Linked DNA regions of Homo sapiens. The protein of the gene in region 2 interacts with the protein of the main gene of each other region in a biochemical or structural test. Each region holds a gene or a part of one and is shown on either strand. Other genes may lie near its edges.

Evidence for each region. The genes of interacting proteins can lie anywhere in the genome.
Region 1: the proteins of ADAR (region 2) and SMURF2 form a complex in vitro, tested with the Homo sapiens proteins (one study listed by BioGRID).

Annotation. Positions count from the first base shown.
Region 1 is NC_000017.11:64,652,308-64,659,330, reverse strand, and holds part of SMURF2 (E3 ubiquitin-protein ligase SMURF2), read left to right. Parts: intron 1-7,023. UniProt on the Homo sapiens protein: E3 ubiquitin-protein ligase which accepts ubiquitin from an E2 ubiquitin-conjugating enzyme in the form of a thioester and then directly transfers the ubiquitin to targeted substrates.
Region 2 is NC_000001.11:154,598,186-154,605,208, reverse strand, and holds part of ADAR (double-stranded RNA-specific adenosine deaminase), read left to right. Parts: intron 1-2,582; coding exon 2,583-4,168; intron 4,169-6,623; coding exon 6,624-6,807; intron 6,808-7,023. UniProt on the Homo sapiens protein: Catalyzes the hydrolytic deamination of adenosine to inosine in double-stranded RNA (dsRNA) referred to as A-to-I RNA editing.

The sequences.
Region 1 (7,023 bases), on a different chromosome or scaffold from region 2:
TTTGCTTTAAGTTAATACCATATTAGTATTTTAAATTTATAGAGTACCTTTGATTTCAAGATGCTGTATAAACTTTAGTTACTTGATAATAACTTTATTGTGGAATTGCCCCTTTGCTGAAAGGTATAAACATTTCTTACATGGTGATGCACACACTCACACACACACACTCACACACTCATACACACTCTCTCTGAAGAAGAGGAAATATTTAAGCCATGAGATCTCTGCCCACAATTGATATTAAACCTTTCCACATATTATTCTTAAAACCACAATCAGTGAACTGTTTGGTATTTGTCAATGCTAAGAAGGTGGGGCTAATTTAATAATTTGATCCCAAATTTTAGATTCCTCAGGCAGTTGGGGGTTAGAATCTGATTTCATCCATCAAGCTACTTCTGTTCTTTATGACACATTAACATATGATCATTGAAATGGGCTGTATGGTAACACTATCAACTTCAACTACTGTTTCTATAACATTGATTACAAAATGTATAATGTCTATATCATTATACTTATATCTGATACAGGCTTTTCTTTCAATGGTTTGGATAGAAAAATATTCTTTACAGTAAAAACTTTGGGATAATTTTTTATACCATTATTGTTTCTGAAAACCAAAGGCTGGAAAAAGCAGTTTAGTGTAATTTCTAATATTTTAAATTCTTAGGTATGGAGAAGCAGAATAAGATTACTCCTCCAGAACATTTGTTTCAGACCTTTTTATACATTTAATGTTTTTGTATGCTGCTTCTCATGTTATTAATTTCAAAGCCCTTGGCAATAAGGAGGTTAACCTTGTCTATAATGTAAGGAAGTTTAACTTTAAAAATTTCCCTTTAGATATGCTAGCGTCTTAATCTTGTTTCACTACATATTTTATCGATTCAAGGCTTTAAAAATTGTAGCTTAATTCTATTTCACAGGTTTTTAAGTATGCCTATACATCATAATGACTTTATTTATTTATTTTTTGAGTTGGAGTTTCACTCTTGACTGGAGTTGAAGGGCTTGATCTCGGCCCACTGCAACCTCCACCTCCCGGGTTCAAGTGATTCTCCTGCCTCAGCCTCCCGAGTAGGTGGGATTACAGGCGCCCACCACCACGCCTGGCTGGTTTTTTTTGTATTTTTAGTAGAGACGGGTTTTGCCACGTTGGCCAGGCTGGTCTCAAACTCTGGACCTCAGGTGATCCGCCCGCCTTAGCCTTCCAGTGTGCTGGGATTACAGGCATGAGCCACGGCACCCGGCCCATAATGACTTTATATACTAGAGGTGTTAGTGATTTGAATGTCCCCAATTTGTTTTATTTTCTTGGTTTCTGAGGAGGAAGCCAGTGTAGTTGAGCTCCTTCCTTTTCTTTTAAATTCTGTCTTCTAGTCTGACCCTCTTCAGGCAGGCAGTAGAACATGCCAAGGTCCTTTTTGTAGTTTGGTATTCGTAATAAAGTCTGTGTATTTTAGTCATCACTTTTACTTTTTTCTTGTTGGTTGAGCTATTACTATCACAACATACTAACATCTCATTTAACATAACTCAGTTTTAAAGATAAATGAAGGGTCATGCTTAGGCATACAAGATTTTTATTTTAGCCTTTTTTTTTTTTGAGGCAGAATCTCATTCTGTTGCCCACACTGGAGTGCAGTGGCAACAGCGTGCAGTGAGCAATCCCGGCTTACTGCAGCCTTGACCTCCCGGCTCAGGTGATTTTCCCACCTTGGCTTCCCAACTGGCTGGGACTACAGGTCCATGCCACTGTGACTGGCTGATTTTTTTACCTTTTTTTTTTTTTTCCAGTACAGATGGGGTTTCTCCAGGTTGCCCAGGCTGGTCTTGAACTTCTGTGCTCAGGAGATCCTCCTGCCTCAGCCTTCCAAAGTGCTGGGATTACAGGTGTGAGCCACCATGCCTGGCCTATTTGAGCCTTTTTTGGTGAGAGTCTTAAAGACGTAATATGTCCTCCTCTTTTCAAATAGACCATACTTAGTAGAACTTAATGTTTTATTCATGACTCAGTATAATTATGAATGCCCTCGCCCCTAGCAATACTTGCCCATCTTTTAAGGCTCAACTCAAAGATTACTGTTATCCCTAGAACTTTCCCTGACCTGAGTTGAACTGTCCTCTATGACTCTAAGAAGCTCTTCTAGTACCAGACCTAACCCACTGGTAGGCGTTTATTGTTCCTATGCTTTAAGTGCCATGAAGCCAGCATCCTTGTGTGAGTATGGATTAAGACCTTTTTGGCATTTTATTTAATGAATGCTGGAGAGCTATAAATACTTCCGAATAGTTCTGCATGTGTTCTTTATGGCTAATGCATTGGGTATGAGTGGCAAGAGGTGAGGCTCTAGACAGGGACCAACCTAGTTTGGACCTTACTGTAGTTTGCCAAGATGTTCATTTTTTTTAAGGTGGGGGGAACCATTGCAGGATTTTAAGCTTTAATATATTTGCTGTTTAGACACAATCTGGGAGCAGTATGGAGGATGGACTGGAATGGGAACCATGAAGACTGGTTTTAGGATAACTGGTTAAGCAGATTCAACAGCAACCATCGTTCAGATTTTTTTGTTTGAATGTTTATTTCCAAATTTTTTATTACAAATAATTGCTGTAAACATCTTGGTGTAGGTAACTTTGATTTTTTTTTTAAGGATTCTTTTTTTTTAGGATGCTTCCATAAAAATAGTGTTACTGAGTTCAAGTGTGTGGATATTTTTAAGGTTTCATGAGTAATTTTTCCTTTAGGCTGCTTCTTACAAGAGTTGGACCTATTTAGAGCAGCAGTAAATAAAGATGTCCCTTTTTACTATTCTGTTATAAGTATAAGCTAATTGCATTTTACATTTTTTGCTAATTTCATGGCATGTGCCATTTAAACATTCGTGAAGCAGAATATTTTCCTGTCTGTTTACTAATGATATTTATTTTCATTGACTTGTTTGGCCTTGTCCTAGTTATGTTAGAGCCTTAGTGTTTTTCTTATTGATCTACCTGAGACTTACAAATATATTAACCTGTTGTCATATTTGCTACAAACATTTCCATGATGAATTATTTGTCTTTTAATATTGTTCATTGTTTGGACATGTAGAAATGTGTTATCTTAGGAGTCAAAATCTGTCCAACTTTTGTTTTGTTTTTCCTATTCTATACTTGGAAGAACTTATTCTCCAAGAAGTTTGATAAATAAGTACATTATATTTAATGTTTTTAAAAAATGGTTTAATAAACTATTTCCCCTGCAATTGCTATTTAGCCATCTTGTCATTATTTATTAACCAATTCTTCCTTTCCACAGTGATGTAGTATCTTTTCAGTTATATTAGTTATAGAGTCAGATATAGCTCTTGTTCAGTGCCATACTGTTTTTTTTATTGTAGCTTTATAATTTAGTTTAGTATTCTCACTAGGCCAGTTTTTTAAAGAGACGGAGTCTCACTCTGTCACTCAGGCTAGAGTACAGTGGCGTGATCTTGGCTCACTGGAGCCTCTGACCCCTGGGTTCAAGTGATTCTCCTGCCTCAACCTCCCTAGTAGCTGGGATTACAGGTGCATGCCACCACTCCCAGCTAATTTTTTTTTGTATTTTTTTTGGGTGGAGATGGGTTTACACCATGTTGGTCAGATTGGTCTCGAACTCCTGACCTCAAGTGATCTGCCCACCTTGGCCTCCCAATTTCTTTTCATTTGTTTTGGTAGTCTTATTTTTTTCTTCCACATAAATATTAAACTTGTTAAGTTTAATAAGAAGTTTCATTGGGGCCGGGCATGGTGGCTCACGGTTGTAATCCTTGGACTTTGGGGAGGCTGAGGATGGTGGATCATCTAAGGTCAGGAGTTTGAGACCAGCCTGGCCAACATGGTGAAACCCTGTCTCTACTAATAATACAAAAATTAGTTGAGTGTGGTGGCACATACTTGTAATCCTAGCTACTGGGGAGGCTGAGTCACAAGAATCGCTTGAACCTGGGAGGTGGAGGTTGCAGGCGAGATCATGCCACTGCACTCCAGCCTGGGCGACAGAGTGAAACTGTGTCTCCAAAAAAAAAAAAAAAAAAAAAAAAAAGACATTTCATTGGGATTGTCATTAGAATTGCTTTACTTTGGGAAAAAGAAGTATCTAAGTTTATTTAGTTTTCTCACCCAGGAACATGATATGTTTTTTACATTTATTTAAGCTTTGGCCCATATTGTTCAGGATAGCTTTATAATTTTCTTCCTGTGTTTGAATTTAATTTCAGATAATTTATATTTGTGTGATTTACGTTGTGTTTTCTAATCCTAGTTATTGCTTGTATTTAGGAATGCAGTTATATGTATTTTGCTTGATTAGAAGAATTTTGGCTGGGTGTGGTGACTCACGCCTGTTATCCCAGCACTTTGGGAGGCCAAGATGGGAGGATCACTTGAGCCCAGGAGTTCGAGACCAGCCTGGGCAACATAGTGAGACCTCATCTCTATATTTATTTATTTATTATTATTATTTTTTGATACTGAGTTTTGCTCTTGTTGCCCAGGCTGGAGTGCGATGGCGCCATCTCGGCTCACTGCAACCTCTGCCTCCTGGGTTCAAGCGATTCTCCTGCCTCAGCCTCCTGAATAGCTGGGATTATAGGCATGTGCCACCGCGCCCGGCTAATTCTGTATTTTTAGTAGAGATGGGGTTTCTCCATGTTGGTCAGGCTGGTCTCAAACTCCTGACCTCAGGTGATCCGCTTGCCTCGGCCTCCCAAAGTGCTGGGATTACAGGCATGAGCCACCGCACCCAGCTGATGGCTGGTTTTCTAGGTGTCAGTGTTTGGTACTTGTTACAGTTGAATGTTAACACTTAAAATTTTTCTTTTCTCTCGGATTTCTCTCCAACATATAAGTAGTTGAACAAAGTGAGAAATTTTATTTCATTAAAAATTTTTTAAATACGAGCAGTCTTCTGAACAAGAATAGTTTCAGACCAACTCTGTTTTAGAATAGCTTCTGATGGCATTGGCTACCTTTTTTAAAACCACATTTGATATTATATTAAAAAGTGTCAACAGATAATCTGAAGTTTGGCAGTTTGGTTTGGTTTTGTACAAAAATTGGTAGCAGACATAAAGTTTAAATTTTTAAATAAACCTCGATGATTCATTTTTAGGGAGGAATTACCACGTGGATGATTGCAATCATGCAATGTTCTTCCCATTTCTTCCCAAAAAGTTTCTTCCCAAAACATTTTCTCTTACCTCTTTGTAGCCAGTTGTCTTCTTCAATACCGAGAACTTGTCAACCACTGATCTGTTTTCGGTCACTATAATTTTGCCTTTTCTAGGATTTTGAGTAAATGGAATCATACTGTCTGCAGTCTTTTGGGTGAGGCTTCTTTTAGCGTAATGCTTTTGAGATCCATTCATGCTGGGTATCAGTACTTTGTTCCTTTTCATTCCTGAGGAATACTGCATTGTACACCAATTTGTTTATCCATTTATAAATATCTGCAGACATTTGTTGTTTCCAGTTTTTGGCCATTACGAATAAACATTTGAGTACATGGCTCTTTGTGAACATGTTTTTCTTGCCCTTGGGTAAATGAGTGGGATTGTTGCATCATACAGAAAGTATGCATTTTAACTTTTTAAAAATCTGCTGGGCGGATTGCTTGAGCCCAGGAGTTTGAGACCAGCCTGGGCAACATGGCAAAACTCCGTCTCTACAAAAAATACAGAAATTGGTCGGGTGTGGCCTGTGCCTGTAGTATCAGCTACCTGAGAAGCTGATGGAGGATTGATTGGGCCTGGGAAGTTAAGGCTGCGGTGCTGTGCTCACACCACTGCATTCTAGTGTGGGTGACTCTGTCTCAAAAAAAAAAATTTTTTTTTTTTCAAAGTTGTACCATTTTGCATTTCTACCAGCATTGTATGAGTTTCAGTAGTTCCTCATCCTAGTCAGCACTTGATACTGTCTTTGATTTTAGCCATTCTAATTGGTAGGTACAGATATTTCATGGTACTTTAATTTTTACTTCCTTAATAACCTACAGTTTTAAGCACATTTTAATGGACTTATTTATTGTCCATATAATCTTTGGTGAATATCCAAATCTTTTGTTCATGTTTTAAAATTGGATTGTTTTCTTATTGAGTTTTGAGAATTCTTTATGTATTCTGGATATAAGCCTTTTATGAGATATATACTTTGCAAATATTTTCTCCCGGACTGTAGCTCCCCCACCGCCCCCCAAAAGATGTCCCAAAGAGAAGAAGTTTTGAATGCTGATGAAACCTGTTTATCAGTGTTTTTCTTTTGTGGTTCATGTTTTTTGAGTCCTAAGTCTTTTTCTAACCCAGAGTTCTAAAGATTTTCTCTGTGTTTTCTTCTGCATTATTTATAATTTTAACTCATACATTTAAACTTATTTTCAAGTTAATTTTTTAATATGCTGTGAGAAGTAAGTGTCATGATTTTTTTTTCATATGGATATTCTATTTTTGTAGCCCTATTTGTTGAAAATACTTTTGTTTCCTCCATTGAATTGTCTTGGCACCTTGGTAGAAAATCAGTTGACAGGCCAGGTGCGGTTGCTCATGCCTATTCTTTGGGAGGCCGAGGCAGGAGGCTCACATGAGGTCAGGAGTTCTAGACCAGCCTGGCCAACATGGCAAAACCCCGTCTCTACTAAAAATAAAAAATTAGCCAGGTGTGTGGCAGGTGCCTGTCATCCCAGCTACTCGGGAGGCTGAGGCAAGAGAATCACTTGAACCCAGGAGGTGGAGGTTGCAGTGAGCTGAGATTGTGCCACTGCACTCCAGCCTGGGCGACAGAGCGAGATTCTGTCTCAAAACAAACAAACAAACAAATCAGTTGACAGTATACATAGAATTCTATTTCTGGACTCTCCTGTGTTTTCTTTATGATTCTACCCTTTAAGTTTATTTGTTTTAACACTATGCTGTCTTGATTACTATAGCTTTAAAATAAAGCAGCTTTCAAACAAATTGAGTCTTTGATTTAGGATCTTGTAGTGCTTTGGAGCGG
Region 2 (7,023 bases):
TTGCAATGGCCCAGTAAGAGGTAATGAGGGGCTGGAACTGGAAGAAAACACATTTAAGACACAGTACAGAGGTGGCAGACAAGGTGGGACTTGGCAACTACCTGATGAGATCCAGGAGATGAGGCCAGGAGGCGGGCAGCAAAGATGACGCAGGTTTCTAGCCTTAATAGGCTAGGAGGAGAGTGATGCCATTAGCAATAAGAACTACAGGAGAAGGAGCTGAGTTTGAGGGAACTATTAATTTGGTTCAGAATATGTGCTGTTTGAGTTATGGCAGGATATTTAAGTGGACAGACTGTCGACATAGTTGGAAATTCAGATCTTAAGCTCCCACACAAGGTAGTGGCTGGACATAGTAGATTTGAGTGCTCTTGCTTCAGAGGGCTAGTTTAGGTTGGGGCAGTGATTAAAGCAACCTAGGAAATAAATTATAAAGGAAGAAGAGGTCCTTAAAACCTTGGAGACTGATTATATAAAGGGTGGATCCGTTAATACAGTAGCTATTAAAAAATTATAAGGGGTGGGAAAAAGGGACAAAGAAGAAAAAAGAGGTGAAAGACCTTTGCTGTGTCACCAAACCCTGGGAGGAGAATTTTTTAAAAGAAGAGTACTCAATCCACAGTGAACTAAGGCATGTTTGTTAAACACAATTGACCACCACACAGCGAAGACCCAAATGAGGTTCAAGAGAAGGAATTTTTATGGACCCTGTTAGCACAAGTCAAGGTCCTTCTCCAGTACCACTGGGAAGCTTTGGAGAAGAAAAGGGGGACAGTGGGCCTTGGGTGGAGAAGGGAACTGACCATGAGATCCAGGTGGGGTGAGGAGGTGTGTGAAGTCAGAGTGGGGAAGAATCAGGGTGGCTTACTGGCAGCTTCACCGGGGTCATGCGAGGAGCAGGTTCCACCAGAGTAAGGAGTGAAGTTGTAGAAACACAGGGAAGTCACCATCAGAAAAGAGCAGGAGTCAAGAAACTATGGCCCACAGGTACAAACTACCTGTTTTTATAAATAAAGCTTCATGGTAAATGAATTGTAAATAAAGTTTTGCATATTGTGTGAGGCTGTTTTTGTGCTACAGTGGCAGAGCTGTCTGGCCCTTTATAGAAAAAGTTTATCAGCCACTGGAAAAGAGTTGCAGGATTTGAGGTCTTGGTGTGATGGCCTAGGTTAGAGTCATAGTGAGATTGAAGGAGTAGCTAGACAAGCCAATTGTGTGGCAGAAAGGTAGGGATGGAGATCACTGGGTTAAGGATCCTTGTAGCCAGGACACCATGAGAGTGATTGACAAGAATGCTGAAATCCCCTAAGTGTGTCAGGATGTGGAAGAGTAGAAGGCTAGAGTTATGGAAGAAAGGGTCCCACCTCTACCTGTGCAGCCTCCAGGAGAGTCTGAGGAGGGGGCGGTGAGTGTGAGTAAATGTTGTCAGAATCCCTCCTCCCAGTCTACAAGCCCCAGGGAAAGGAAGCAAGGTGTTTACTGACACCCCCAGGCTTATAAGTACTTCCTGGCTCCATCACCCTCCAGTGAACAGCCCTGGGGAGAAGACAGTACTGGTTTGCAGGTGGGTGGGTGGGGAAAGGGGTCACAGGTGCTTGGTGTTCTGGTAAATGTGCATATGAGAACATGGGGTTGCTTGTGCCCTGTCCGTCAGGGTTCAGAAGAACGTGCAGTGGAAGCAGCTATGGGGAAGTAGCTAGGGAAGGTAGGACTGGTCTGAGGTGGTGAGGAGCAGATGCTGCCAGCTCCACACATCCAGGAGAGCCTGGGTGGTTTGGGCAAAAGTCTCTGGCATCCCTTCTGAGCCTGGGTACCACACTGAAGAGTGAGGACAGTGTGCCATTTTTATCAGGAAACCCTCCAGCTCCCTGAAGACCAAATTCTGATCCTCCTGGGATGGCAGTGAAGAGCCACAGAGATGACTCTGAGGTCCCGTGGCCTTTTCCCACCTGGAGATTGTTTTCGTTACTGCGCTGTTACAGCCTTGGAGGACTGGGGTTCAGTTTCATCCAATCACATTTCTTCTTTTGTCATAGTCATCTAAACGATAGATCTTAGAGACAGGTGGGCAAGGGGTGCACTGGTGAGCCTGACTTAAGGAGAGGTCATCTCGTCCCTTCCCTAGTCCCATCTCCCTTGGTTATTGTTATTTCATGTGATTGTTCTGGTTATTTCAGGTTATTCTGTTTTTGTTTTCAAAACAATAACATATATTTGTTGTTCTGATTTTAAAGGGGTAATTGTTTTGGTAACTAGAAAATTACCTTCTCAACTCCCTTAAATTCTGTCAAAGGGAAAAGTAAGTTAGGTTGCTGGAGAGGCTATGCTGAGGCCTCAGAACCTCTGTATTCCTGGAAGTTCTGCGTGCTTTGCCTCCTGCTCCCCTCTCTGTGTTCCTGTTGGCAGGCCCCTAGGCAGGATTTAGGAGGTAGGCAAGTCACCCTAGCCAAGTCATAAGCCCATGGCTCAATTGCCTTCTCAGCCCTTCAAGGGCTGTTCCACAGGCAGCAAAGGGAGGGGCCTCCACAGGTTCACCACTGCAGCCCTAATTCATTTTCTTTTTCCACTGTCTTATTCTGCAGGGGTATTCCCTCAGCGGATACTACACCCATCCATTTCAAGGCTATGAGCACAGACAGCTCAGGTACCAGCAGCCTGGGCCAGGATCTTCCCCCAGTAGTTTCCTGCTTAAGCAAATAGAATTTCTCAAGGGGCAGCTCCCAGAAGCACCGGTGATTGGAAAGCAGACACCGTCACTGCCACCTTCCCTCCCAGGACTCCGGCCAAGGTTTCCAGTACTACTTGCCTCCAGTACCAGAGGCAGGCAAGTGGACATCAGGGGTGTCCCCAGGGGCGTGCATCTCAGAAGTCAGGGGCTCCAGAGAGGGTTCCAGCATCCTTCACCACGTGGCAGGAGTCTGCCACAGAGAGGTGTTGATTGCCTTTCCTCACATTTCCAGGAACTGAGTATCTACCAAGATCAGGAACAAAGGATCTTAAAGTTCCTGGAAGAGCTTGGGGAAGGGAAGGCCACCACAGCACATGATCTGTCTGGGAAACTTGGGACTCCGAAGAAAGAAATCAATCGAGTTTTATACTCCCTGGCAAAGAAGGGCAAGCTACAGAAAGAGGCAGGAACACCCCCTTTGTGGAAAATCGCGGTCTCCACTCAGGCTTGGAACCAGCACAGCGGAGTGGTAAGACCAGACGGTCATAGCCAAGGAGCCCCAAACTCAGACCCGAGTTTGGAACCGGAAGACAGAAACTCCACATCTGTCTCAGAAGATCTTCTTGAGCCTTTTATTGCAGTCTCAGCTCAGGCTTGGAACCAGCACAGCGGAGTGGTAAGACCAGACAGTCATAGCCAAGGATCCCCAAACTCAGACCCAGGTTTGGAACCTGAAGACAGCAACTCCACATCTGCCTTGGAAGATCCTCTTGAGTTTTTAGACATGGCCGAGATCAAGGAGAAAATCTGCGACTATCTCTTCAATGTGTCTGACTCCTCTGCCCTGAATTTGGCTAAAAATATTGGCCTTACCAAGGCCCGAGATATAAATGCTGTGCTAATTGACATGGAAAGGCAGGGGGATGTCTATAGACAAGGGACAACCCCTCCCATATGGCATTTGACAGACAAGAAGCGAGAGAGGATGCAAATCAAGAGAAATACGAACAGTGTTCCTGAAACCGCTCCAGCTGCAATCCCTGAGACCAAAAGAAACGCAGAGTTCCTCACCTGTAATATACCCACATCAAATGCCTCAAATAACATGGTAACCACAGAAAAAGTGGAGAATGGGCAGGAACCTGTCATAAAGTTAGAAAACAGGCAAGAGGCCAGACCAGAACCAGCAAGACTGAAACCACCTGTTCATTACAATGGCCCCTCAAAAGCAGGGTATGTTGACTTTGAAAATGGCCAGTGGGCCACAGATGACATCCCAGATGACTTGAATAGTATCCGCGCAGCACCAGGTGAGTTTCGAGCCATCATGGAGATGCCCTCCTTCTACAGTCATGGCTTGCCACGGTGTTCACCCTACAAGAAACTGACAGAGTGCCAGCTGAAGAACCCCATCAGCGGGCTGTTAGAATATGCCCAGTTCGCTAGTCAAACCTGTGAGTTCAACATGATAGAGCAGAGTGGACCACCCCATGAACCTCGGTAAGAGACCACCCAGGAACTGTACCTAGGGTTGGGGTCAGGTGCTTTTGCTCCTGACGCAGTCTTGGCTGATTTGTGAGCAGTGCTGTTTGGTGGCGCCTATCTTTTCCTCCTTCCCTTCTGCCTTTTAGCTAAATTCCCCTTGATTGGCCCTTTCTCCAGATATTGAGCAGGGAATATAGACCTTGGACCAGCCAGAATCTTGGCTGAACAAGGGGGAGGTTGACTCTGTTGGCTGTAATGAAGCTTCTTTAGAAATGATTGGTTTTGGCCGTACGCGGTGGCTCATGCCTGTAATCCCAGCACTTTTTGAGGCCGAGGCAGGCATATCACGAGGTCAGGAGTTTGAGACCAGCCTGGCCAACATGGTGAAACCCTGTCTCTACTAAAAATACAAAAATTAGCTGGGCGTGGTGGCGTGCACCTGTAGTCCCAGCTACTCAGGAAGCTGAGACAGGAGAATCACTTGAACCCAGGAGGCAGAGGTTGCAGTGAACTGAGATTGCGCCACTGCACTCCAGCCTGGGCCACAGAGCAAGACTCCATCTCAAAAAAAAAAAAGAAAGAAATGATTGGTCTTGGGGGCCGGGGCGGTGGCTTACGACTGTAATCCCAGCACTTTGGGAGGCCAAGGCAGGCAGATCATGAGGTGAGGAATTCGAGACCAGCCTGGCCAACATGGTGAAACCCCATCTCTACTAAAAATACAAAAATTAGCTGGGGGTGGTGGTGCTTGCCTGTAATCCCAGCTACTCGGGAGGCTGAGGCAGGAGAATCACTTGAACCCAGGAGGTGGAGGTTGTAGTGAGCCGAGATTGGCGCCACTGCACTCCAGCCTGGGCGACAGAGTGAGACTCCATCTTGGAAAAAGAAAGAAAAAAGAAAAACATGATTGATCTCCATGCATCAATATCATGCCTGCCTCCTAAGGCAGAGGTAATGAAGACTTAATTCCCTTCTGTAGGCCTTCCCCTCCTCCCTAAGCCGTTTTCTGAGAGAGGTGCAGGAGCAGGTGGGTTGGGGCAGGCTGCATACACAGTGGGGGTGGGTTGTGCTGCTAAGCAGCAGCAGGTCCACAATCCCCCCTCTGCATAGCTCCTGGGGGGAAAGGATGGAGGAGCGTGTGCACGGCTGCCTGCCTGTTGAAGGTGGTGGTTCTAATTTTATAAACCTCCTCTGCACAGATGGGTAGGCTAGCACTTGCTGCCACTCCTGAGCTGTGAAGTCAGCCTTTACCTCACTCAGATAGCTGGTCAGGCCCTGCACTGTAGGTCCTAATAGGCCAGTGGACAGATTGAGGAAAACAGGAGCTTCTGAAGGGCATAACAGAGAGCAAAACCACTGAAGCTGAGTGGCTGCAGCTGCAGCCAGGGAAAGAGCCAGTAGGATGGGGGAGAATTCCACTGACCTTTATGTTTACCTAGCCTGGTTTCTAGGGGTGTAGATTCCTGGCTAGGGCCCTTATTCCTTGTCTTGACTGTCTTCATGACACCAATTTGGCATTTCAGGAGAGCGGTTAAGAAAAGGAGTTGTGTCTGTCCAAAAGCTGGCAAGGCCAGAGCTGGATTGTTTGGGGTAGAGACTGGATGGCCGTCATTCTCTTTTGCCTCCATCCCTCCTCCCCAGAGTTGGAGGAAAGCAGTGGATTTTGTGGTTAGTCATTCTTTGGACTCACACTAAAAGAAACATTGGTGCCATGTTCAAATATATCAGAAGACCTAGGAAATAAGAAATTTGACCTACTTTTCTAAATGAAATCCCAGACTGAGCAAAGAGCTCACCACATTTGAAAGCTTGAACAAAGGGGGCCTAGGCTAAGTCCAGAGGCCTAGAACAAATGCTTTTTTATTTTCTACATAACAAGGGGAAATTCCTTGTTATGTAGAAAATAGCTGGAGACAAATGGTGCTATAGAGTGACTCATAACAAACTACGGTGATATAGGTCTAGGGACAAAAGCAGGCCACTGATAAGTGGCAGATGCCTGATCCCCCTAGGTAGTGGGGAGTGTGAGACTGGGTTATAAGAAGCCTTCACTATCTTTTAGGACCCTCCCTTGAGGAGGCCAGTCTACCACAATTGCTTTAGAATGAAGGTCTTTTGGTTGCTCACAAGACTATAATGGTAATTTTTGGCTCATCATTTTTGTGTGTGTGGGTTTTATCTTAATTCATTGTTAAAGAGATAGTGGGTTTCCCCTGAGCTAGTTTCCTATCATCTGTGCCTATGTTTGCTTCACTGAGCTATGGGGAAAGAGTCACTGGCTGCTTTGTTTACAAAAAGAAAGGACAGGCTGAGCCTTAAGGAGTAGGAAGGAGTTCCTTGGCCTACCCTTCATCTCCACAAGTGAAAAGCCCCTTAGCGTAGCAGAAAATTCCAGGTTGAAGGTCTCTTTGGAGAAGGCAGAAGGAGTGACCTAGACTCCTGTTCACACATCTAATCACTTTCCGTCAAGATTTAAATTCCAGGTTGTCATCAATGGCCGAGAGTTTCCCCCAGCTGAAGCTGGAAGCAAGAAAGTGGCCAAGCAGGATGCAGCTATGAAAGCCATGACAATTCTGCTAGAGGAAGCCAAAGCCAAGGACAGTGGAAAATCAGAAGAATCATCCCACTATTCCACAGAGAAAGAATCAGAGAAGGTAGGTGTCCTCCTGCCATCTGGGAGGATCAGTTCCCTGTCAGTGTCTGGATTGTAACTGACTCCCTTGAGGCAATCCCAGCCTAAACAACTGACACCATCTCGGAGTCAGCTTCCCACTCTTCCCTCTACCCTATCTCGCCAGCCCACCTTTCCTCCTCTCATACCCAGCTCCTCTGTCTGCTCCTGTCCCAACATAATTGGATTTACAGAATTT